Regions from separate parts of the Homo sapiens genome. Here regions 2 and 3 are each linked to region 1. The links come from fine-mapping of genetic effects on gene expression. A gene starts in region 1. Each other region holds a variant in brackets. All regions are shown on one strand. Distances are from middle to middle. Region 1 holds the start of GNPTG (N-acetylglucosamine-1-phosphate transferase subunit gamma). Region 2 overlaps UNKL (unk like zinc finger). Region 3 holds the start of BAIAP3 (BAI1 associated protein 3).

What was found.
Region 2: its variant is fine-mapped to the expression of GNPTG in whole blood (TOPMed, PIP 0.91).
Region 3: its variant is fine-mapped to the expression of GNPTG in whole blood (TOPMed, PIP above 0.99).

Annotation. Positions count from the first base shown.
Region 1 is chr16:1,347,918-1,354,626 of GRCh38, reverse strand. It overlaps GNPTG (N-acetylglucosamine-1-phosphate transferase subunit gamma), which reads right to left and starts at 2,696. Exons shown (of 11, transcript NM_032520.5): 1 at 2,610-2,696; 2 at 2,468-2,525; 3 at 2,321-2,388. The coding sequence starts at 2,661. BAIAP3 (BAI1 associated protein 3) reads right to left here. Exons shown (of 34, transcript NM_001199097.2): 32 at 6,610-6,709; 33 at 6,326-6,531; 34 at 5,188-6,248. The coding sequence ends at 6,145. TSR3 (TSR3 ribosome maturation factor) reads left to right here and starts at 2,749. Exons shown (of 6, transcript NM_001001410.3): 1 at 2,749-2,934; 2 at 3,029-3,248; 3 at 3,627-3,820; 4 at 4,393-4,569; 5 at 4,675-4,738; 6 at 5,019-5,387. The coding sequence starts at 2,823. The coding sequence ends at 5,190. RefSeq lists a silencer at 2,472-3,171.
Region 2 is chr16:1,385,252-1,396,258 of GRCh38, reverse strand. UNKL (unk like zinc finger) reads left to right here. Exons shown (of 15, transcript NM_001372107.1): 7 at 2,044-2,128; 8 at 3,283-3,368; 9 at 5,565-5,627; 10 at 10,874-11,007. Among named protein-coding and RNA genes, the nearest start is that of UNKL-AS1, 18 kb to the left of the region's middle. The variant G/C (reference allele first, on the strand shown) is at 5,593.
Region 3 is chr16:1,327,162-1,334,751 of GRCh38, reverse strand. It overlaps BAIAP3 (BAI1 associated protein 3), which reads right to left and starts at 1,107. Exons shown (of 34, transcript NM_001199097.2): 1 at 1,003-1,107. It also overlaps the pseudogene RPS20P2. RefSeq lists silencers at 1,058-1,217, 1,953-2,153 and an enhancer at 2,930-2,979. The variant G/T (reference allele first, on the strand shown) is at 2,836.

The DNA.
Region 1 (6,709 bases):
TTCTAAATTTTTATGGGTTTTTTTTTTTTTTTTTTTTTTTTGAGACGAAGTCTTGCTCTGTCACCCAGGCTGGAGTGCAGGGGCATGATCTCAGCTCACCGCAGCCTCCGCCTCCTGGATTCAAGCAATTCTCCAGCCTCGGCCTCCCAAGCAGCTGGGATTACAGGAGGATACCACTATGCCCGGCTAACTTTTGTTTTTGTGGTTTTTTTTAGTAGAGACGGGGTTTCACCATGTTGGCCAGGCTGGTCTCGAACTCCTGACCTCAAGCGATCGTCACACCTCAGGCTCCCGAGCAACATGCACGCACCACCACGACCAGCATATTCTGTTTTCTTTCCAGGACTCTCACCTCCAAAAAGACGTGGTCCCATTAGCCAAGGCTGCCTCTCTCCTACTGGAAGGGGTTCGGTCGGGAACTGCGCTGTTACACAGTGGCCTGCCTCCTCCCCAGCTTCTTGGGATAGGTGGTGGCCCGACTCCAGCACTTCAGGCCCTGGGAAGCCACCATCCCATGGCTTCTGAGCCGCAGGGAAGTGAGCCTAACCCCAGGTGCGCCATCACGCCCAGCCACACAACAAAAAACTTAAAAAGATGTGTTTGGAGTCAAAGTCCACCAAACCTACCAACACGGTGCGGCACCATCTGATCCCCTTTATCTCTGATCTGTGGCTACCCCAGCTGAATCCCCTCTGGCCCTGGCTGTCCTGCTCAAGGCCTTTGGCCACTCCCTTTCCTGGATCCCTTTCCCCAAATAGCCACAGCTTTACTCCCTTTTCTCCTTTAGCTTTTGGCTGAAATGTCACTTCTTAGACTTTTCCTCAGCACCCTATTTAAAGCAATCCCCACCAAGACAGGAGGATTGCTTGACGCTGGGAGTTTGGGGCCAGCCTGGGCAACATAGTGAGACTTCCATCTCTACAAGAACACTTAACATTTGCCGGGCATGGTGGCGTGCACCTGTAGTCCCAGCTACTCAGGAAGCTGAGGTTGGTGGATTGCTTCAGCCCAGGAGTTCAAGGATGCAGTGAGCTATGATTGCACTACTGCACTCCAGCCCGAGTGAGAGAGCAAGACCCCGTCTCTAAAAAATAAAAAAAGCGATCCCCCAAACAATACTCTAACACACATACACACACTCCCTCCTCTGCTTCACACATCTACATGGCATTTTTCATCATTGGCCATTCTATGTATTTTATCTAATTCTACAGGCTCAGTGCCTGTTCCTCCATCCCTCCCCATTAGACTGTCAGCTCCATGAGGACAAGCATTGGTATATCTGTGTTCGTTTCTGCAACCCCAGCACAGACCCTAACACATAAAGGTATTCGATAATAAAATTACTAAAGCTGGGCGCGGTGGCTCACGCCTATAATCCCAGCACTTTTGGAGGCCGAGATGGGCGGATCACTTGAGGTCAGGAGTTCGAGACCCGCCTGGTCAATACGGTGAAATAAACCCTATCTCTACTAAAAATACAAAAATTTGCTGGGCGTGATGGTGATGCATGCCTGTGATCCCAGCTACTCGGGAGGCTGAGGCATGAGGATCGCTTGAACCTGGGAGGCGGAGGTTGCAGTGAGCCGAGATCGTGCCACTGCACTCCAGCCTGGGCGACAGAGCGAGACTCTTGTCTCAAAAAAAAAAAAAAAAAAATTCTTGGATTTTTGTCTATTATATTTAATACTCATTCAGCGTTTAAATGATATATATACTCATGACCCACCAATTCCACTTCTGGAATCCTGCACTGGGAAACCGCTCACCTGAGGGCAAACCAAAGCACCTACACAGCATGTTCTCCACAGAACTATTTCTAATGGCCAAAAAAATGGCAAGAACCTAAATACAATCGGGGAGTGCAGTGCCATCCTATCGCGTGCTGAGCACCAAGAGAAAGAACGAAGACCTATATCATCACCATGAAGCGTCCCGAGAGATACAGCGAGTGACAACGACAAATCAGCCAAATACTCGCGCAGCATGATTTTTTAAAAAAGCGATTAGATTACAAAAACTATACGTTTTCCAGTTGCATAGACACGCACGTAAAAGCACAGAAACGCGTCTGCAAAGTCACCAGACTATTAACAGCAGTTACCTCTCGGAAAGGAAAGGAAGGACTAAGTCTGGAGATAATTTAATTCGCTACAAGAACGTTCTGGTATATTCTCTCGTACTTCCACATTAATTTTAGAAGGCTGACAAACCAATGCTTTAGACTCCGGGCCGTAACTCTCAGGGTCACTCATCCATCCTCCACTGTTGCTGCTCCCCGCGGCCACCCCCGCGCCGGCCAACAGCGCTCCTCACTCACCAGACACGGGTGAAGGATCCCTCTTGGCCTGGAGGCGACTGGCCTGAGGCAAGAACGGGTTGTTCACCCTACGGGAAGCGGCAAGGTCAGCGGGGAACGGGCCCGGGCCGTCCCCCGCTCGAGCCGCCAGCCCGCGAGGCTGCTCACCCAAACGCGTTGGGCTCCTCCACCACCTTCATCTTCGCTGCACCTGCCGGCGCGGGCCCTACGGGGAGCGAGACCGTGAGCGGGGAGGCCGGGGTGCAGAGCGCGCGCGGGGCCTGGGGACGCGGACGGCCGGGCCACTCACCGCCGGCCGAGAGCCCGAGGAGCAACAGGAGCCGCGCCAGCCCCGCCGCCATCGCGCCGCAGCGGCCGCCGCGCGGTCACGTGAAGTGACGGTCACGTGACCACGGGGACCGGAAGTGGCGTCCGGCGCAAGCGCTGGCAGCCGCACAGCCCATTGGGAGGCCGAGGGGCGCGGCCGTGGGGTGGGGAGTCCCCGGCACCCCAGGTCCGCGCCATGGGCCGCAGGAGGGCAGCGCGCGGGCCGGGGGCGGAAGGCGGCCGCCCTCGGCACCTCCCGACGCGCTCCCTGGAGGCCTTCGCCGAGGAGGTCGGCGCCGCGCTGCAGGGTGAGCGAGGCGTGATGGGGAGAGCGGGTCAGGGTTTGAGGGCCTGCCCGGGGGTCCCACGCTGAGGCCGAGTGCCCTTCTCTCTCTCGTGCAGCTTCCGTGGAGCCAGGGGCGGCTGACGGCGAGGGCGGCCCGGGCCCGGCGGCGCTGCCCTGCACGCTGGCCATGTGGGAGTTGGGCCACTGCGACCCCCGGCGCTGCACGGGCCGCAAGCTGGCCCGCCTGGGGCTGGTGCGCTGCCTGCGCCTGGGCCACAGATTCGGCGGTCTGGTGCTGAGCCCCGTGGGCAAGCAGTACGCGTCCCCCGCAGACAGGTAGGCGCGGGAGGCCTGCCCGAGGTCGTCTTCATTTCCAGCGCGTGGTTCCCTTCAGGGATGGTTTAGTGGCACTTGTATGTCGCACCCACATCCACACCCACGTGGGCAGGGAACGTCTGTCTAGTTTGCCTCCGTTGCGTAGCGCAGAGCCTGGGATAAAGGAGGTTTTGGGGTAATAAACGTTTGTTGAGTGAATAAACACATGCTCCAGGTGCCCCAAGCAGCTGCCTCAAAAGCTTGCTCGTGAAGTCCGTTTGAGGGTGTTTGGGGATGGCGGAATGATGTCCCTGAATCCCTTAGCTAGGCCATTCTCCGGGGCATGCTCCACCTTGGGTAGTGCTGGCTCCTGAACTTATCCCATGCTGTCCCTGGCAGACAGCTGGTGGCGCAGTCTGGGGTCGCCGTCATCGACTGCTCCTGGGCCAGGCTGGACGAGACACCGTTTGGGAAGATGCGAGGGAGCCACTTGCGCCTGTTGCCCTACCTGGTGGCCGCCAACCCCGTGAACTATGGCCGGCCCTACAGACTTTCCTGCGTGGAAGCGTTTGCTGCCACCTTCTGCATCGTAGGTGAGTCCAGGGGCCCCACAGCAGTGTGACCCGGCGGCCTGCTGTTCCTGCTATGCTCCCAGCATCATGTTTCCTGCCGACAGACCCCAGGAGGAGCATAAGGGACGGACAGGGGAACAGTTCAGACAGACCACGGTTCCAGCCCCAACTGTCACTTCAGGTTTTCGGCCTGTGGAGTTGCAGTAGAGGCAGAATGGGATCGCTGTTCTATCAGGGCCGGTGTGTGGGGTGCCATTCATTATCAGGGCACCACTGCCCAGAGAATCCTCCTTATCCTCCACGTCCTCCTTACTGAATTGCTGATCTAAAGAGGCCCTGATGAGGCGTGGGGCAGTCTTGGTGGGAATGTTTGTTTCGCAGCAAAGGAGGGGGACTTGGTCGGTTGCAGAGGTGTGGACTGTAGCAAGGGAGGTGCAGGCTGGGGGCAGCACGGGTTCTCAGGACTGTGAGCTGATGTTTGCTGGGGACCCTGCGGTTACTTGGGAGAGCGCCGCCATCCGGCAGCAGGGTGATCAGGAGGCACTTGAGGGGACCGTCGACTTCTTTGGGTTTCCTGTTTCTCACACCGTCAGGCTTTCCAGACCTTGCTGTCATTTTGCTGCGGAAGTTTAAATGGGGCAAGGGCTTCTTGGACCTGAACCGCCAGCTCCTGGACAAGTACGCGGCCTGCGGCAGCCCGGAGGAGGTGCTGCAGGCGGAGCAGGAGTTCTTGGCCAATGCCAAGGAGAGCCCCCAGGAGGAGGAGATCGGTGAGCCTTGGCGGGGTGGGAACCAAGGCCCTCCAAAGCCTGGGGGGTGGGAGGCCTGGTCCTGCTCTGAGCTCACTTAGAGGCCACTTTCCTCTCTCGGCTCAGATCCCTTCGATGTGGATTCAGGGAGAGAGTTTGGAAACCCCAACAGGCCTGTGGCCAGCACCCGGTAGGTCCTTGGGCTTAATTTCATGATCACTCAGACCCAGGGCTCTCTTCTACCTCTGGCCTGAGCCCTTCCTGCTGCCTGGGGGTGGTGTTGTAAACAACACCCCGATGGTCTTCTGACTAGAAAACCTGCAGTGCATGTCCCACTGGAGAGGTTTGGGTGTGGAGAGCACAGGGAGGAAGAGGAATCTGTCCTCGGCTGGGGGCTTTTTGTGGATGACGTTGACTCCAGCTAGCCAGGGAGGACGTCATTTGGGAACGTGCTCCCCCTCCTCTCCCAGGCTGCCCTCGGACACTGATGACAGTGATGCGTCTGAGGACCCAGGGCCTGGCGCCGAGCGCGGAGGAGCCAGCAGCAGCTGCTGTGAAGAGGAGCAGACGCAGGGACGGGGGGCTGAGGCCAGGGCCCCGGCTGAGGTTTGGAAAGGAATCAAGAAACGGCAGAGAGACTGAGGGTTGCAGACACATATATTTTTGAGGCTGGGTGACGAGAAAATCTAGAGACATGAGGGACATAAATGGGCCTGGCAGCCTCGGCTCTTTGCGGCTGCTGGCAGGACTGAGCTGTCCGGGTTCTCCCCACACTTCCAGCACAGCTGTGCTCTGTGTCCTGCCTCGGCGCTCTCGCAAATGAAGCTGCAGGCCAAGAAGCCCCTTGTGAGTCTGTTTTTCACACTGGGCCTGGGGAAGGGTTGGGGCGAACTCTCGGCTCTGCCTGGAAGGGTCGTGGAGCAGGTCTCAGGTGGCCACGGATATGTGCGTGAAGGACAGCTGACCAGTTGGCACGGAGCCCTTCACACTGACCACCAGCCTTGGGTGACGTCCCTGGCCTCAGAGTGACCTCAGGGGAACCTTTCCCCGGCCTGGGAGCCCCGTGGGGACTGGAGACCTATGCGGTTCTTGACTCACCTGCCCTTTGCATCCCCTCTGTGGGTGGAGGCTCTGGACCATCCACCCAGTGGTGCCAGTGGCACCCTTTTCACTCCCCAGCTGTGATTACCAAAAATGCGTCTGCACATTGCCCGTTGTGCAGAGAGCACAGCCACTCACTGAGTCCCTGGAGACCAGCTGCCCACCGCCCACCCAGGGCCGGGGAGCCCAAGGAAGCGGGCAGGGAGGCCCACCAGGTGGTCAAGCCCGCTCTGGCCTGCACTGTGTCCTGGGCAGCTGCTGGCCAAGTCCTGCCAAGTTGGCCACCCAGATGTGGGGTTGGGTGCAGGGGTTCACAGCACACACCAGACAGACACGGCCAGGGCGGTAGGCGCCGCGGGGCCAGCCACGACACACACGTCACAGCACAGGAGGGGCGCCGTGGGCCCTGGTTGCACAAAGCTGGCCACAGTGAGCTGGAGGATGCTTCAGGGAACTTGGGGTGGGGGCCAGGGCCGGGGCTGGCAGCTGATGGACTCAGGGGTCCGCCTCCATGCACTTCTCCAGCTCCTTGAGTTTCTTCACGAACTCCTGCGCCTCCTTGCTGGTGCGGCCTTCCAGCCTCCTCAGCGCAGATCTCACTGCAAGCAGCGCGGGCAGGTGTGTGGGGGCCGGGGTCAGGCCCGCTGCCCCTGCCTCCACCCAGATGCTCACTCACCCTGGGCTCTGGGCCGGCACAGGTGCAGGGTGACAGGCTGCCCAGCCCTTGCACCCCCGCCCACCTGGGGCCGGGCGACACCAGTGACGCCACCTAGGCCGAGGGCCGCCTCCCCAGCGAAGTCGTTGGTGGACAGCCAGTCGTGGTCCATGACGGTGAACAACACACAGGCCGCGCGGCGGCGGCACGCCTCGGCAGGCACGGAACTGCGGACAGAGGCCAGTCGGGAGTCTCGCTCCGGCAGCCTGGAGCCTGGGGCTGGGGCTGGGGCTTAGGACACTCACAAGTAGAAGAGTTCGTCGTATACAGGGTGCAGCGTCCGGGTCTTCACCTGGGTCCTCTGGCTGCGGACCAGTGGAAAGAGATGCGGTGGGCCCAGCTCCA
Region 2 (11,007 bases), 39 kb before region 1:
AAACAAAACACATGTTCAGGCCAGGCACGGTGGCTCACACTGTAATCCCAGCACTTTGGAAGGCTGAGGTGGGCACATCACTTGAGGTCAGGGGTTCGAAACCAGCCTGGTCAACATGGTGAAACCCTGTCTCTACTAAAAATACAAAAATTAGCCAGGTGTAGTGGTGCGCGCCTATAGTCTCAGCTACTTGGAGGCTGAGGCGCGAGGATCACTTGAACCTGGGAGGCTGAGGTTGCAGTGAGCCAAGAGTGCGCCACTGCACTCCAGCCTGGGGGATAGAGCAAGACTCTATCTAAAAAAAGTAAAATCCTCAGCCAAGGGGGAGGCGTGCAGGGGCTGGGAAGGACCAGGCGCTGCTTCCCGTCGTTTCTTGACTCATGTTGTCACAGACGCGCATCATGCTTTCTGGGTGTCGGTGACCACACACTCAATGGTGTCACCAGGGGCCTGTCGGGAGTCCGGTGTCCGGGGCGTTTTCTGTGTTCAGTCACGCAGGCCTGGTTGCAGACCCCAGTCTCTGGTACCCAGCTGAGTGGAGCTGGCACCACGTGGGCCACAGCCGCACCATAAATCCTGAGGGAGATAAACCCTCCCGCCTGGGCCCCGCCCCAGGTAAACAAGGACTCTTCCGAGGCAGGAGGTTCCTGGGGCGGAAGGGGCAGCCTGAGATGGAGCCAGGCCTGTGCCTCCACTAGAAGGTGCAGGGTATGGACGGTACAGGGAGGCTGTGTTCACACCCAGCCGTGTAGTTGCCAAGGGACCATACTCAGATTTGTATTAAAAACAAACAGGCCAGGCACAGTGGCTCACGCCTGTAATCCCAGCACTTTGGGAGGCCGAGGCAGGCAGATCACCTGAGGTCAGGAGTTCGAGACCAGCCTGGCCAACATGGTGAACCCGTCTCTACTAAAAATACAAAAATTAGCCAGGTTTGGTGGCTCATGGCTGTAGTCACAGCTACTCAGGAGGCTGAGGCAGGAGAATTGCTTGAATCCAGGAGGCAGAGGTTGCAGTGGGCCAAGATGGCACCATTGTACTCCAGCCTGGGCGACAGAGCCAGACTCTGGCTCAAAAAAAAAAAAAAAAAAAATGAACAGACCGGGCACGGTGGTTCACGCCTGTAATCCCGGCACTTTGTGGGGCCGAGGTCAGGAGTTTGAGACCAGCCTGGCCAACATGGCGAAACCCCATCTCTACTAAAACTACAAAAATTAGCCAGGTGTGGTGGCACATGCTTGTAATCCCAGCTACTTGGGAGGCTGAGGCAAGAGAATCACTTGAACTCGGGAGGTGGACGTTGCAGTGAGCCGAGATCTTGCGACTGCACTCCAGCCTGGGTGACAGAGCGAGACTCTCTCTCAAAAAACAAACAAAATGAACAAGCAAACGGGACCCCACCGGGTGCCCGACGTGGTGGAAGGGCCATGGGGGGGTGGGGCCAGGCCGGAGGTCAGGAGAGAGGCTTCCTGCTGGGACCCAGGCAGGTGTGGGCACTGGAGGCCTGGCGTGCCAGGTGCCGTGTCCTTTACGGAGAGCTACGGAGCAGGAGGGGCTGGGCCAGGCCTCCCAAGGCCGACTGGGGGCTTCCAGGCTGGTCTGTCCCTTGCCGGGTCTTAAGTGTTGTTGACCTCATGAGAGGGGCTGTCACCCTAGGTGAAGGGTCAGTGGGTCTGATCAGGGAACAGACACACGTGTTCCTTTTAATAGGCACTTATTAGGCACCTGCTGCATACCAGACTCTGAATTTGGTGCATCTTTCAGAAAATATCAAGCGGGGAAATGACTTTGCCTGTGATGGGAGGGCAGATGCTGCGGGAATGGCCCCACATGTGTGCGTGTTCCCTGTGGGTCGGCTCTGCAGAGAGGAGGGATGTGGGGACCAAGGGCACACGTGGAGGAGGGCAGGGCCCACGCCCCCCTTTTCAGGGGTGTCTTGTTACGATTTGGAGCTTAATCCTCTCCCTTGGGATGATGCCAGCTGTGGTCTTTCCACAGAATCCCATTTCCAATCCAACCTCTTTATTTCACTTTTTTCCCCAGATCTACAAATCTACAAAATGCAACGACATGCGCCAAACCGGGTACTGCCCGCGCGGCCCCTTCTGTGCCTTTGCACACGTTGAGAGTGAGTAACCGTCCCTGTGGCAGGTTCACCTTAGCAGGTTCCGCGGCTCTGCAGGCCCTCACTGGAGTTACCGATGACCCGGAGCTGCCCACGAGGACCTGGAAGGCGGGCAGGAGCTCAGCACCGTGGTTGGGGGCTGGGGGTCCCTGACATGCCCGTGGAGGCTCCCTGGGGTGTTTGTGCCATGTGAGGCTGGGCTCCCTCCACGCCGGCGTGGGCCAGGCCTGGTGGAATCTGCAGGGACCCTGTCTTCAGGCACGCTGGGGCCCTGAGCCTGGAGGCTGAGTCCTGGTGTGGGCTGGCTGGCACCTCCACCTGCCTCCTGGGCATCCAAGCTGGGTCCTTCTGCCACCCACTGCCTGGGCCTTGCTCCGAGACTGCCATCTTGCCAGGCACCCACCCAGGAGCACCACCTCCCTTGTGGAGAGAGGGGGTCTGTCCGCCCCAGCTCGGGGAGACAGCAGAGACCCTCAAGCAGGGTTGCTCAGGGTGACCCTGTGCTTTCCAGAGCCCGTTTGCTGTCCAGGGGATGAGGGCTTAGCTTTGGCGATTATGTGGTCCCTAATAAGTTCCCAGCAGCAGAAACAAGCCCCAGTGGGAACCCACGCGGCCTCCTCCACGCTGCAGTGGGTTTCCTTCTGGCAGCCCTGGGGTTTGGGTTCAGTGGGAACCCACGCGGCCTCCTCCACGCTGCAGTGGGTTTCCTGGCAGCCCTGGGGTTTGGACTCAGTGGGAACCCATGCGGCCTCCTCCACGCTGCAGTGGGTTTCCTCCTCGCAGCCCTGGGGTTTGGGTTCAGTGGGAACCCACACGGCCTCCTCCTCCCAGCCCTAGGATTTGGGTTCCAGGTTTTGTGTGTGTGGTCACAAGCTCAAATTTTCCTTTGTTTTTTATTTTAGTGGGGAGGGCAGCTATTCTTGTTCACGTTTTAAACATTGCTTTTAGTGTTAAAAACATGAAAAACTGGTCTAAGACCAGAGGGTCCTGTTGCCCTGAGTGTCCCCACCACTGCCCAGCCGTCCTCTGCCGCACCCCTGAGGGATGATTGTGACGAGGCTGCGCACACTCGGCCCTGACGTGTGGTGCGGAGACTTCTGCGTGTCACTGTCGCCCACCAGCGGCCCTCAGAGTCTGCTGCTCCCCTGTCCTTGCAGAGAGCCTGGGGATGGTGAATGAATGGGGCTGTCACGACCTCCACCTCACGAGTCCTTCCTCCACGGGCAGCGGCCAGCCGGGAAATGTAAGTGAACGGCCTTCCCAGGACAATGCCCAGTGTCCTTTGGTTTAATTGAACTCTTAGGGATGTGGATGGATATGAGTTTTCAGCAATGTGGTCGTGGGCAGTCTGTGGAGTTCGTGGCTCTTCTAGAAGAGTCTAGAAAAATCCTTGCCACTAGGCTGGGGGCAGTGGCTCACGCCTGTCATCCCAGCACTTTGGGAGGCTGAGGCGGGTGGATCACCTGAGGTCAGGAGTTCAAGACCAGCCTGGCCAACATGGTGAAACTCCATCTCTACTAAAAATACAAAAATTAACCAGGTGTGGTGGTGGGTGCCTGTAATCCCAGCTACTCAGGAGGCTGAGGCGGGAGAATCACTTGAACCCAGGAGACGGAGGTTGTGGTGAGGTGAGGTCCCGTCATTTCACTTCAGTCTGGGTGACAGAATAAGACCCCATCTCAAACAAAAAAAGAGGGGGGAAGAGGGGGTTGGGCTTCTAGGAAGGTAAGGCTATGGGGGAGACTGGCGGAAGGTAAGAGCAACTTCAGTGAGGTTGGTTATGCAGCCTCAATCTGCAGTCTCTCCTCCTGGTGTGGAGAGGGGAGAGGACACCTTCACAGAGGGAATTCACGCCCGGCTTCGAGGCAGGAAGGAAGCAGAGAGCTGCTCCTGCATCTACTGTTTCTCAGCTGCCTTCAACTCAAAATAATCTTTTTGTCAAAGAGTGGCATGTTTTGGGGTGGCACACTCTGACTCCCTTCATATATTTCTTAACAGTTTCACCTGAGCCTCTGCCTTAGGTGAATGGCTCGGTTTGGGGTTTGATGCCATGGTTGGTTCAGGGAGTGCAGAGCTGGCACCCTGCCTTCACACGGACCAACCCAAGGTCAGAGAGCCACGTTCAAATGTAAGAAATGGAACTCAGGGCCGGGCGCGGTGGCTCACGCCTGTAATCCCAGCACTTTGGGAGGCCAAGGCGGGTGGATCACCTGAGGTCAGGAGTTCGAGACCGGCCTGATGAACATGGTGAAACCCCATCTCTACTAAAAATACACAAATTAGCCGGGCGTGGTGGCGTGCGCCTGTAATCCCAGCTACTCCAGAGGCTGAGGCAGGAGAATTGCTTGAACCCGGGAGGTGGAGCTTGCAGTGAGCTGAGATCGCGCCACTGCACTCCAGCCTGGATGACAGAGTGAGACTTTGTCTCAGAAAAAAAATGAAAAGAAAAGAAATGGAACTCAGGAGAACCGACAGGGAGCCAGCAGGTTCAGGCATCTCTTCTGTTTCATGAGACCTTCGAGATTTGGCATCTTTGGCCAGTTGCAGTGGCTCACGCCTGTAAACCAGGCACTTTGGGAGGCTGAGGTGGGACAATCGCTCGAGGTCAGGAGTTCGAGACCCGCCTAGGCAACATAACAAGACCCTGTCTCTACAGAAAGCTTTGAAAAATTAACTGGGTCCACTGGCAAATGCCTGTGCTCACAGCTTCTTGGGAGGCTGAGACAGGAGGATTGCTTTAGCCAGGGAGGTCATGCCACTGCACTCCAGCCTGGGAGACAGAGCGAGATCCTGTCTCAAAACAAAACAAAACCAAAAATAGCATTCGTCTAAATTCTGAGCAGAGCTTATGTGTGTGTGTGTGTGTGTGTGTGTGTGTGTGTGTGTGTGTGTGTATCTTTAAGGGACCAAGAGTACTGCTGAATAGGTACATATATATTGTGTGTGTGTGTGTGTGTGTGTGTGTGTGTGTGTATTTTTTTTTGGAGACAGAGTCTCACTCTATCACCCAGCCTGCAGTGCGGTGGTATGACCTTGGCTCACTGCAGCCTCCACCTCCTGGGTTCAAGCGATATCCTTTTTTAAATTTTTTATTCTATTTTTTGAGACGGAGTTTCACTCTTGTTGCCCAGGCTGGAGTGCAATGGTGCCATCTCGGCTCACTGCAACCTCCACCTCCTGGGTTCAAGCGATTTTCTTGCCTCAGCCTCTCGAGGAGCTGAAACTACAGGCATGTGCCACCACGCCTGGCTATTTTTTGTGTTTTTAGTAGAGACAGGTTTTCACCATGTTGGCCAGGCTGGTCTCGAACTCCTGAGCTCAGATGATCCGCCCGCCTCAGCCTCCCAAAGTGCTGCCACTGTGCCCAGCCTGAATTGTATGTTTTTAATTTACATTTCCTCCCTGCTTTTTCCACATATGACTGTTTTTTATGTTGCAGGCCAAGCGGAGAGACTCGCCGGCCGAGG[G/C]TGGCCCTAGGGGCAGCGAGCAAGACAGCAAGCAGGTACAGGCCCCCAAGGTTTCCCACCCTCGTGCCTGATGTCGCGTTAGGGCTGAGGCTTCCCGCCCTCGTGCCTGACCCGTGGCATCGCGTTAGGGCAGCGCTCATGCATCCTTGGTCCCGCCCACTCTCGGCTCGCAAAGCCATCTGGTTGACGTCCGCTTGTTGTAGAATTAGCTCTTTCCTGGTACCCCCGTGTTTGTCTGTTTGAAACGTTCGTGTTATACCTTGGAAACAAAGCCACAACATCGTGCTCGGGGAAATAAGAGGGGCCCTTTGGAGCCCATCTGTGTTACTTTTTTGGGCTGCGAGGGAAGGATGCAGATGGGGCCGTTCCAACAGCAGAACTTGCCGGGCACGGTGGCTCACACCTGTAATCTCAGCACTTTGAGAGGCCAAGGTGGGCGGATCACGAGGTCAGGAGTCCGGGACCAGCCTGGCCAACATGGTGAAACCCCATCTGTACTAAAAATACAAAATATTAGCCAGGCATGGTGGCACGTGCCTGTAGTCCCAGCTACTCGGGAAGCTGAGGCAGGAGAATTGCTTGAAGCCGGGAGGTGGAGATTGCAGTGAGCCGAGATCGTGCCACTGCACTGCATCCTGGGTGACACTGTGAGACTCTGTCTCTGAATGAATGAATGAATGAATGAATGAGGTAGTTTTAGTTGGGCACAGTAGCTCACACCTGTGGTTCCAGTACTTTGGGAGGCTGAGGCAAGAGAATTGCTGGAGCCCAGGAGGTGGAGGTTGCAGTGAGCCAAGCACTCCAGCCTGGGCGACAGAGTGAGGCCCTGTCTCAAACCAAACCAAAACCAATCCCCAAGCAGCAGCACTTGACTCTCTCAGTTCTGGGGGCTGAGTCCGAGCTTGAGCTGTCCAGAGCTGGCTCCTGAGGCCCCCCGGGTGCAGATGCTGCCTCCTCCGTGTCCTCTGGGGTCACCCCTCTGTGCGTGGGCATCCCTGGGGTCTCTTCCTGAGGACAGTGGCTGCGTAGGGCCCTGCCCCCACACCTCATTTCATTGTTGCTGTTGTGTTTTTACAGATTCTTAAATTTTTTGAGGCAGGGTCTGGCTGTGTCACCCAGGTGTAGTGCAGTGGCCAAGTCCCAGCTCACTGCAGCCCGGGACTCCCAGGCTTGAAGCAGTCCTCCCACTTCAGCCTTCTGAGTTGCTGGGACCCCAGGCATACACCACCAGGCTTGGCTAATTTTTGTATTTTTTTAGAAATGGGGTTGCCCAGCCTGTTCTCGAACTCCTAGGCTCAAGCAATCCTCCTGCTTTGACCTCCCAAAGTGTTGGGATTACAGGTGTGAGCCTCCACGCCTGGAGTAAGAACTCATTTCACCTTAATTACTCCTCACAGGCCCTATCTCCAAATTTAGTCACACCGGGGGTCAAGGCTTCCACGTAGGAATTTGGGGGGGACACGTTTGGTCCATAACAAAGACACTGTGCTGACTGAAATGAGCCAGTTACCGAAAGGCAAAACCTGCGTGATTCCACTCACAGGAGGTCTCTAGTGGAGTCACATTCACAGACAGCAGGTGGCATGGTGGGGGCCGGGGCCGGGGCCGGGGGAGGGGGCAAGTGTTCACGGGGTCAGAGCTTCCGGCTGGAAGATGAGGAGTTCTGGAGGTGGACGCGGTGATGGCTGCACAGCGGTGTGGATGGAATTCATGCCACGTACTACACCAAACCATGGCCACTGTAGCAAATTTTATATTATATTTCACTATAATACAGAGAAGAAAAACCAGGCAGGCAGTGCTGGTGGTAGCTTGGGGTGTGCTGTCCCCACGGGGCGAACGGTGCTGGTGTTAGCGGAGGTGCGGTGTCCTCATGGTGTGAACGGTGCTGGTGGTAGCGGAGGTGTGGCGTCCCCACGGGGAGAACGGTGCCGGTGTTAGTGAAGGTGCGGGATCCTCACGGAGCTCTCGTCTGACCCCTCTCACTGTGCCCATCCCTCATGTGGATGGACTCCCACACCAGGCCCGTCATCTGTGGCCATTGTGCCTTGGGGTACAAGGAGTGACATGGATGTTGATGATTTTCAGGTGATCGTTTGGGCTGAAGTCACAGTGTGCGCATCACCCTGGCCAGCTCCCGGGCAGGGTCAGCATGGGGTCTGGGGGGTCACTCAGGGCTGAGGCTTCCTCTCTGGTCCCTGTTGGTTTATGGCCTCCAGTAGGCTGGGGAAGGCCTCCGGGGTGGAGTCCCCTCCTGCAGACAGGCGGGAAGGAGGCGGCCTTGGCTTCTGAGGGTGCTGCATTCACCCTGGGCCGGGCAGCGCTTTGGGAGCCTGAGGCTGCCTGTCCCAGCCGAGGGTCAGCCCGTGCCCAGCCCTCAGATCAGTGCTGCTTTGGGGGCAAACGTGGCACCTGCACTGTGGTGCCTCCTGGCTTTCTGCATTCTTGGGCTCTATGCAGACACAGGTGCGGGGCACAGACTCCCTGTCCGACCCAGGGCGGGGCAGGCCTGCTCTGCAAACCCCAGCGTCGTCCACGGCTTCTTGGTGGGCCCGGGGCCCTTCCAGGCAACAGTCCCTCAGCTCTCCCTTACATGGGAGGTGGCCTCTGGGCCTGGGTGATGCTCTGGAGTTGGGTTCAGGCAAGGACTGAGACGCCCACAGGGGTCATGGAGCTGAGAGGACATCCACAGGGGTGACTGTGACCCGGGCGGTGGCCTCTAGGCTACTGGTGGGTCAGGACATGGGGAACCTCAGCCTGACTGAGCAGGGGCAGCTTGTGTGTAGGGACCGTGCCCCAGAGCACGGACCTGGGCAGACCCCGGGACACAGGGTGGGCTGCCAAGAGATGGGATGAGGCGGGGGTGGGGGAGGGCTTCCGCAGGCCGGGCAGCCGTGCGGCGGTGCAGTGTCCACGTCCCCGGAGGGCCGGGCAGCCGTGCGGCTGTGCAGTGTCCACGTCCCCGGAGGGCCGTGCGTTGCCATCCTGAGCTTTTGGTTCTGAGTGATAGCTGCTGGATGCGGTGAGCTCAGCAGACCGCCCCACGTCACTCACCCCTTGCTGGTGCCTGCCTCCTCAGCCCCACAGCCCAGGTGGCCCTGTCCTTTGCTGGTAGAGAAGGTCGGCTCCCTCCCCGATCCAAGCCATCGGGGTACAAGGAGCTCCCAGGTGTGCGTTGCTCCTGGATGTCTGGTCACCAGAACGTCTGTCAAGAGGTCCTTCTCAGCCTTCCTGGGGCCACACTGAGGGTCTGAAGCAGGGACAGGAAGTGCAAGGGATAGGGGGCGGGTTGCCACTGAGATGGCACCAGGTCTCGAATCACCCATAGTGTTTCTGGGCTGCTTGCTGGAGAACATGAGGCTTCCAGCAACCCTGTCACCAGGCTCACCATGGGGGATTGATAGGGGGTATTGGCAGCACCATGCATGGCTGGGAGTGTCCCCGGTGTTGCATGGCTGGGAGTGTCCCCGGTGTTGCATGGCTGGGAGGGTCCCCGGTGCTGCATGGCTGGGAGGGTCCCCGGTGCTGCATGGCTGGGAGGGTCCCCGGTGCTGCATTGCTGGGAGGGTCCCCGGTGCTGCATGGCTGGGAGGGTCTGCGGTGTAGGGTGCAGGAGTTACCGCCGTCCCTGATGCTCACGGGGTGGACTGTGGTCCGTTTTTTCATGGCTTGAGGAAAAGTGGTCTCTGGGCCAGGGAGAGGAAGTGGATTATGGACGAGGGGGCAGGCCCCTTCTCGCACCTGGGCAGGGAGCTCTGGTGGCTGTCTCCAGACTTTGCAGCTGGAGGGGACTGTTTTCAGAGTCAGTCACGGGGGGCTCTGTGCACCTCCTGGGCCGTGGGCTGAGGGGCAAATCTGGTATCCAGAAGGAAGCCAGGGCAGGCAGCAGGACCCTTAGGTCACAGAAGCCAGGAGCCAGGCGCGTTCTTGTCGGGGATTTCTGATCTTTAGGAAATGCACATTAAAATTTCTTCATTATGGACAGTTTTACTTAAGGAGACAAACTAGTAAAATCACACCTCCCAAGGTTAACTTTTTCTGCATTACTTTGCAGCAAAACCCAGATATCATACCATTTGAATTGTAATATTTCAGGATGCAATTCATTTTTTTTGGAAACAGAGTCTCTCTGTTGCCTGGGCTGCAGTGCATTGGTGCGATCTCGGCTCACCACAACCACTGCCTCCCGGATTCAAGCAATTCTCCTACCTCAGCCTCCCAAGTAGCTGGGATTACAGGCGCCCACCACCACGCCCGGCTAATTTTTTGTATTTTTAGTAGAGATGGGGTTTCTCCATGTTGGGCAGCCTGGTCTCGAACTCCTGATCTCAGGTGATCTGCCCACCTCGGCCTCCCAAAGTGCTGCGATTACAGGTGTGAGCCACCGCGCCCGGCCTTGGCTAATTTTTTTTGTATTTTTAGTAGAGACAGGGTTTCGCCATGTTGGCCAGGCTGGTCTCGAACTCCTGACCTCCAGTAATCTGCCCACCTTGGCCTCCCAAAGTGCTGGGATTACAGGCATGAGCCACTGTGCCCAGCCAGAAACTCATTCTAATCCAGCTTTTGATGCTTGGTTTTGCAGTGACCTCGTAGGTGGCTCTGGGTCTTTTGTGTCGGGTGTTTTCTTGTGAGCAGCACCCTCCCCGTTACTGGGTTTTTATTCAGCACTGCTCTGTGTGTTGCTCTTTTTCTTTTGATCTATTATCCACCAAATACAGATCATGTGAATTGCCCTGTGTTTTACTTTCCCTGGTGACGAGGTCACAGGACCACGCTATGGATGTTTTGGAAGTGGTGCTGGATCTCTTTTTAAGTCCCTGGGAGGACATTTCTCTGGGGGCCCCCCAAGGTGCTCAGGAGCCAGTCCTGGGCGAGAGCCGGGGCGGGGGCACCCAGGAGGTGTGGGGAGAAGGGCAGGCAGGCTGCACGGCTTGCCCCTCGGGCTGGCGGGCTCCTGGCCGCTGACACATCTTTCTGCACGTGCCAGATTGATTTTTACTGGCAAATGTCTACTCCTGAAACGTTTTCTGCAGAAAAGCTCACGAGACACTCCCCAGAGGTGTCTGTGCCTGTCCCAAGTGCACCGTAGCCCGCTGCCCTGCCGTCCTGGTGTTTCTCCTCGGTGCGGTCAGAGTCCCTCCGGGTCTGGGAAGCTCTCCCTGGGCCTCGCCAGGGCGTAGAAGTTGGCCGCCGTCCCGCGGTGCTTTCTGCAGGGTGCCGACGTGGCGCTGCCTCCTCCACGCAGGGGGTGCGCGCTCACGGTGTTTATGTCTTTGAACAGAACCACCTGGCCGTGTTTGCAGCGGTCCACCCGCCGGCCCCCAGCGTGAGCTCCAGCGTGGCGTCCAGCCTGGCGTCCAGCGCCGGCTCCGGCAGCTCCTCCCCCACTGCGCTGCCCGCGCCCCCCGCCCGTGC
Region 3 (7,590 bases), 20 kb after region 1:
CCTCCAGATGGCCCCTGCGAAGCCGATGGCGGTGCCCAGGTGCAGGTCACCTGGCGGGCCCGCTGCAAACGCTGCTCCCCGGGGTCTCATTCCAGTCGAACCCCGGGAATCTGCATTCTAACAAGCGCTGCCGGTGGCCTTGGGCTCCCCGAAGCCTCAGACGGCTGCCAAGGTCCAGCCGCTGGCGCCCAGCAGGAGCGCAGGAGACCGGAGCCCGAGGCGCCTTCTTCCTCCCCTCGCCCGTGTCTGCGCAGCGCTCCCTCCTCCCTCTGCTCACCGACCCCCTCCCTGCCCCGCCTCGCGGCACCCCCTTTCCCGGGGCCCCGGGCGCCCGCAGGAGCCACACCCCCAGTTCTATGGGGGTCTCTCCCCTCGGAGGGGGCGGGCGGTCCGGGGTGAGTCTGGGGGCGGGTCTAGTGTGTCACTTTAAACTCCTCCCCCGGAGACCCCGGCCCAGGCAAGAGCCCACAGCCCTTTGCCGAGTGGGGCTGAAGGAGGGGCCGCTTTGCACTCGCAGGGATTTCGGGGGGACTAAAGGGCCTTACGAGGACCTGCGGGAGGAGGGAAGGGACGAGGACGCTGGGGGGTGCAGCCCGCCCGGGAGGGGTGCTGGGAGGCCCCGGGCCCGTCTGCTCCCCCGGGGAGGGAGGCGCGGGGGTCGAAGCCTCGCTTGGCGGCTCAAGTGCGGGGGAGGCCGTCGCCAGCGCCCGGATACCCTCCCCGTCCGCTCCGCAGTGCGGACCCCACCGCCGCACCCTCTCCTGCGCGTTCGGAGGGGAAATGCCCCCGAGACCCCGCCCCTCCAAGCATGCGCGGCCTCAGTTTCCCCAGGGCCGAGGGGACGTCGAGACCTTCCCACCGCCCCCCGCCTCGGAGGCCACCCCCGTGCCTCCTGGGGGACCCGGACCAAGGGGGCGGCGGCCGTCGGTCCGTCCGGGTTGGGGCGCGGGGCCGAGCCCAGACGGCGGCCCAACAGCACTGGCCGCAGCCCGCGGCACTTACCGTGGGCCGGCGCGGGGATGGGGGGGCTCCTGGGGCGCTGCGCTCGGCACCAGCTCGGGGACGCCGAGGCACAGCTACCGCTCCCAGCCGCGCGCGCCGACGACTGAGCAACTGCTGGGCGGACGCCGCTGCGGGGGCGGGGTCTGACTGGGGGCGGGGCCGGGCCTGACCGGGGCGGGGCCTGACCGCGCTCGCCCCGCCCCCCGCGTCCACGGCGCCTTAGGGGACCCGGCCGGGGTCTCCGTGCCTTGAGCCGGGCCGGAGCCCCCTCCCCCGGGATGCGGGGCTGTGAGTCAACCCACAGGTGGCTGCGGGACGGGGAGCGGGCTTGGCTGCCTCGGGACCCCGCCTGGCCGCGCGCGCCCTCCCCGTGGCGCGTGGGGTCTAGAAGGGGGTGGTCGGCGGGGTCTCCTCCGCGGACCCCAGGGAAGCCACGGTCACGAAGACCAGCAGCGGTGCAGACCTTTCTGGAAGGGCCTGACTCAGGGACACCTCGCGGGCCCCGCCGCTCTCTTCTCGGGGCGGGGATGCGTCCTGCAGGGATCCACTCGGGACGCCCCACGCCCACGCGGACGGTCTGTGGGGCGATCGTCCCTGGGGCTCTGGTGAGGGCCCAGTTGGCGCTTGTGGGGTCACAGCCGGCCAGAGCCCCCGGAGCCCCTGGGGTCTGCACTGGACCCCGCCAGCCCCTCCCGGGTGGCTCCCCGCTCTTCCTCCGCTGCGCTGTCCTGGAACCCCAGCGGGCCCGCGGTCTCCTGCAGGGTTTGTTAAGGCATTGATGGGTCCTGTCCCCAACCCGCTGGTCCCGAAGTCTGGGTGGGGGCGCGATCTGCGTTTTTTCCCTTTTTTTTTCAGACAGAGTCTCGAAAAAGCTCTCAAAAATAGCTCTCAACCAGGTTGGAGCGCAGTGGCACCATCTCCACTCGCTGCAACCTCGAACTCTCCGGCTCAAGTGGTCCTCCCGCTTCAGCCTCCCCAGTAGCTGGGACCACCCGCCGGCTAATGTTTTTTGGTTTCTTTTGTGGAGATGGGGGTCTCCCTATGTTGCCCAGGCTGGTCTCAAACTCCCAGGCTCAAGGGATCCCCCTTCCCCGGCCTCCTAAGGCGCTGAGATCACAGGTGTGGTCCCCACGCCAGCCAGCGCCTGCACTTCCCAGCTCCAGTCTGCTGCCGCCAGTCCAGGGACCACACTTTGAGAAGTCCGTGCTAAGCATGGTCCTGTCGGGGGCCTGAGGCTCTCAGACTTGCCGAGGGCGCAGCGGCCCCCCGGTCGCACCTGCCCTTGGTCGAATACAGCTGGACACTCGCAGCCCTTTGGGGACAAGGGGTGGGGGGTGGTCAGACTTTGGAGTTTTCACCCGAAGGGCACCTGGGCAGCCCAAGGCCAGACAGGCTTCCAGAACACAGCTCTTCAAAGGGAGGGGGCCCGTCTGCCAACAACTGTCTTGGCTTCTGGATCCCAACTCACTCAAATCCATGCCCGCCCCACACCTGTCTGTGCAGGATCGGGGGCAGGACCCCTGGGTGGGCTCTCCTTCGGGACGCTCGGCCCAGGCTCTGCCGGATCCTGACCCAGCACAGCCAGGCCGGTGGGGGAGGGCAGGGAGCTTGCAGGAAATGCAGGGACTGGCTGGGACAGGGACGCGGTGGGGGAAGCAGGGGAGGGGGCCTGGGCCCTCAGCCCCACTCTGTAGCAGTGTTCTCCTGAGGGGCTGGTGGGTCTGGAGACCGGGTCTGGGAGTGACGCCCCTGCCTCTGCGGTCTTGCACCAGGTTCTGCCCACCTGTTGGAACAAACACAGGCCGGTTGCCATGGTGATCACACTGGCTTTAA[G/T]TGAAGGGACAGGCTCTGCAGCTACGGTAAACAGGAAGTTGGGAGGGGCAGCCGCTGCTCCGGCCCCTACGAGAGCACCAACCCTGAAACCAACACTGCAGTCCGTTGGGTGCGGGAGCACCCTTGGAGACCTCTCCCCACTCTTTTCTAGGTAGGGAGACTGGAGTCCGGAGACGGGAAAGGGCTTTTCCAGGGCCACATAGTGATAGGTTGAGTCCCAAACCAGCCCTGGGCCTCCGTTTCCCCAGGAGAGGACGGTCACTAGGACTGTCCCCTCCACAAACATTTGGTGAGGAGTCGAGGAATGAACGATCCGAGCGACACCCCACTCAGTGACCAAGGCCTTCATTCTCCAACTTGTTCTGAGGCTGAAGACAGGCTGACCTGGATCAAAGTCCCAGCACCCTGCTCACCCCTGCCCCAGGGCGACCCTCCACTGCCCGGGCCTCAGTTTCCCTCTTCTGTAAAATGGGGACAACAGCAGCACCCACCTTGGGTGCAGCTGGGGGACCTCAGTGAGCCAGTCTCAACTCACAGCAGGTCAGCCTCAGTCCCAGTTGGTGGGGATGGGAACTGCAGCCACCCAGCCAGAACTCCGGCCCCTCCAGTGACCCAATTTACCTTTCCATAGCTTGGGGCTGGAAGCCCATCCTCGCGTGAGTCCCCTCCCACTAAGAGAGAGGGCAGGAGAGTGGGCCGCCCACCCTCCCCACCCTGAGCCCCAGGCCTCACTCTGAAGGGGCTACCCTGGCGTCTCTGCCTTCGGACCGGAGTGCAGACAGCTGCCGTGCTCCGGGGACAGTGAGGGGATGGCGCAGGTGCAGGAACACCTCCCACCGATGTGTCGGGACACGAGACCCCCTGCCCAGACGGGGTCAGAGCTTGAGGAGGCTGCTGGGGCACCAGGGCTGCTTGTGCAAAGCTGAGAAAAGCCATTTTTCAAGCCTGGCTCTTTTCACATTCTCAGGACTTTGTGCTGGAAAGGGTCTGGCAGGCAGGGAGAGTAGCTTTTCCTCCTTAGGGCCGGGCCGGTGGCGGGGGGCGGAGATGGGGGGGCAGGTAAAAACACCAGGCTCTGGATACGCAGGCGCCAAAGCCGCTGAAGCACACAGGTGAGGCCATGGCAGAGTTAGACAGCCCCTCCTGTTCCACGCTCATGAGCACAGCGCAGGGCCCAGTGCTACCACCCTCTGGTGGCAGCCCTAGAAATTGCAGGCACAGCCTCCCAGAATCTGCCCCCAACTTCCCTCTGAGGACCCAAGCAAGGAAGGGCAGGGTCCTTGGAGAGCTCGTGGGGTCAGAGCCCAGGGACTCTGGCCAGGGACCCTGCCTGCCCCGGAGCTGGAGGACCCTGAAGACTGCCAGAACCTGTTCCTTGCCCCATCAAGAGAGGGGCTCTGGGTGGGAGGGCCTCAGCCCAAGTCTGGCCTCATGCCTGAGATGCTGGTCTCCAGATCCCACACCAGAAGCTCCGGGAGTCCTGCTGCCACGCGTGCACAGGTGGGGCCGGCTGGAGGTGACCACCCAGTGTCACGCTGGAGTTCTCTCAGGCCTCCGTGCTAGTAGCAGCATCTGTGAGGGGTCCAGGGCAGGGCAGGGACAAAGAAGTGGGCCCAAGACAGGGTCCTACCAAGCCCCCAAACAAAGGCCATTGGTGTGCCAGAGCCCTGCAGGCAGGACAGCCCCTGCTGCGGTGAGGCTTGGATGGCAGGGAGGATGGCACCCTGTCCCCTGGCCCCGCCTCCCACCAGCCTGAGGGTGGGGGTGTCAGAGGCCCCTTCCCAGCGAGATGGGCTTCTGTGCTCACTGTGGTTAGGGGCCCAGCAGGGAGAGGCCAGGCCCTCAGTGTGCATCCTTCTGTGCAGAGCTGGGGTTGGGAGGCGACTCCTCCCAGCTCTGGGGGCTTCAGAGTCCCTCCTTTTCTTTTTTTTTTTTGAGATGGAGTCTTGCCCTGTTGCCCAGGCTGGAGAGCAGTGGTGTGATTTCGGCTGTAACCTCTGCCTCCTGGGTTCAAGTGATTCTCCTGCCTCAGCCTCCCGAGTAGCTGGGACTACAGGCGCCCGCCACCATGCCCAGCTGATTTTTGTATTTTTTTGTTTTTTTTTTTCAACTGGTAATCAATTTATTAAAATAGTTGACTTAAGCATCTGCAATGGTGACTTCCACTTCAACTCCTGGCTCAATACTGATGGAAGTAATCTGCTTAACAATCTCAGAAGGACTGTGCAAGTCAATGAGTTGCTTATGGATGCTCATCTGGAGTTTTTTTTTTTATAAGTTTTTTTTTGAGATGGAGTCTTGCTCCGTCGCCCAGACTGGACTGCAGTGGCGCGGTATTGGCTCACTGCAAGCTCTGCCTCCCAGGTTCACGCCATTCTCCTGCTTCAGCCTCCCAAGTAGCTGGGACTACAGGCACCTGCCACCATGCCCAGCTAATTTGTTTGTATTTTTAGTCGAGATGGGGTTTCACTGTTAGCCAGGATGGTCTCAATCTCCTGACCTCGTGATCTGCCCGCCTCGGCCTCCCAAAGTGCTGGGATTACCGGCGTGAGCTGTAACCTGGCCTCATCTGGAGTTTTTCTTGTAGTGATTCTCAAAGTGTTGGTAGGATTCAAACCGGTCCTTTCACTTTGAGATTCTTTTCCTTTGTGCCTCTGATCAAGTCAGCACACACCTTTTCAAGTGATTTTATGCTGTAGCTCGTTAGAGTGATTCAGATTTGGTGAATTTTGGTGAATTTGGTGAATTTGGCGAATTTGGTGAATTTTGGTGAATTTGGTGAATTTTGGTGAATTGCCATCTCCGGCTCCTTGGGTGTTTTTCTGGTATCCTTAAAAGCCAAAAGAATTTTTTAGGCCGGGCGTGGTGGCTCACACCTGTAATCCCAGCACTTTAGGAGGCCGAGGTGGGCGAATCACGAGGTCAGGAGTTCGAGACCAGCCTGGCCAACATAGTGAAACCTCGTCTCCACTAAAAATACAAAAATTAGCCAGGTGTGGTGGCGTGTGCCTGTAGTCCCAGGCACTCGGGAGGCTGAGGCAGAAGAATCGCTTGAACCCGGGAGGTGGAGGCCGCAGCGAGCCGAGATCGCCCCACCACACACCAGCCCGGGCGACAGTGTTAGACTTCGTCTCAAAAAATAAATAAATTTTTAAAAAATAATAATAAAGCCATAGCTGCTGCGTGGCTTCCTGACCAGCTTGTTCCTTGGCGAGAGCGGACAGTGGTGAGTCAGGAGCAGGAGCGTGCGGATCAGCGATTCACAGCACCTACCACCACGTCTTCCTCAAAGGGCTAATTTTTGTATTTTTAGTAGAGACAGGGTTTCACTATATTGGTCAGGCTGGTCTTGAACTCCTGACCTTGTGATCCATCCGCATCAGCCTCCCAAGGTGCTAGGATTACAGGCATGAGCCACCGCGCCCGGCCTAATTTTTGTATCTTTAATGGAGATGGGCATTTGCCATGTCGGCCAGGCTGGTCTTGAACTCCTGACCTCAGGTGATCCTCCCAACTCGGCCTCCCAAAGTGCTGAGATTACAGGCGTGAGCCACCGCGCCCGGCCTCAGAGTCCCTCCTTAAACGCACAGCCCAGGCTCGGGAGGCCGAGGCAGGAGAACTGCTTGAACCCGGGAGGCGGAGGTTGCAGTGAGCCGAGATCATGCCACTGCTCTCCAGCCTGGGCGAGAGAGTGAGACTCCATCTCTAAATAAATAAATAAGGCACAGCCCGCATCGAGGAGTGGGAACTTGCCTTATTCGGCGGAGGGCATCCTGGAGGAAGGGCAGAGGCCCAGGGAAGGAAGAGCCCAAGCCACACGTGCTCGGTGGTTTTCTTGTGCCTGTTCCTATTTCTTCCTAAGAGCCGGATAAGCCGATCTCCTGGCAGGTGCAGAAGCCTTTGGACCAGGCTGGGCCAGAGACAGGCAGGGTGGATGGGACCAGTTGCCCCAGCCCCTTCCCACCCAATGGGCCAAAGCCAGGAGCCCCCACCCCAACTGGGCCCAATGGCTTCCTCAGACCAGGTGGTGCCTGGGGATCTCAGGCTGTGTCTCCTGAGCAGGTGCTTCAGGACACTCCCAGACCCAGAATCAGGGTCGGCTGGGGATGGATCCCAAACCCAGCACTCCCAGGCCCCTCCCTGCTGGAGCTGGCTCAAACCAGCTCCAGCCAGTCCGAATCAGTGCAAGGCCCTCCAACCTGGCAACTTGTCGTCATGGTAATCATGAGGAAGGCTTCCCATCAGCGGATCCCAGTGAGTGATGGCGGGGCCAGGCCTCAGGTCCAGGAAGGTGAGGCGACCTGGGGACCAGCAGCCTGGCCAGGAGCCTGCATTCCTGCGGGCAGCGGCCAGCATGGTGGCCAAGTCTCCTAGCCTCCTCCGGCCCAGCCAGACCCAGGTCCCAAGGGACCTGAGAGACGGAGGGCACCTGTGGCTAGCCCGACTGCCAAAGCCAAGGGAGGTCTCCCCCGGCGCCAGCTCAGGCCTGGCTAGCCCGTCCCGCAGGGGGCTGGGGTCCCTGCACCTGTGCACCAGACTCCTACCTGGTGGCTCCAGCCAGCCCTGGATGGGCCCTGTGAGGAGAGCTCTCTGGACACCTGGGGTCCCTGCTCCCCAAGGAGGTCCCCTGCCAGGGACAGCAAGAGCAGCCTTGAGTCCCAGGGAGGAGACCCGTAGAGCAGGCCAGGGAGGTGCAGGTGAAGAGACCCCGAGGCTGGCTAGAGGGGATGTCACCCGGAGGGGCTGACGTGGGGC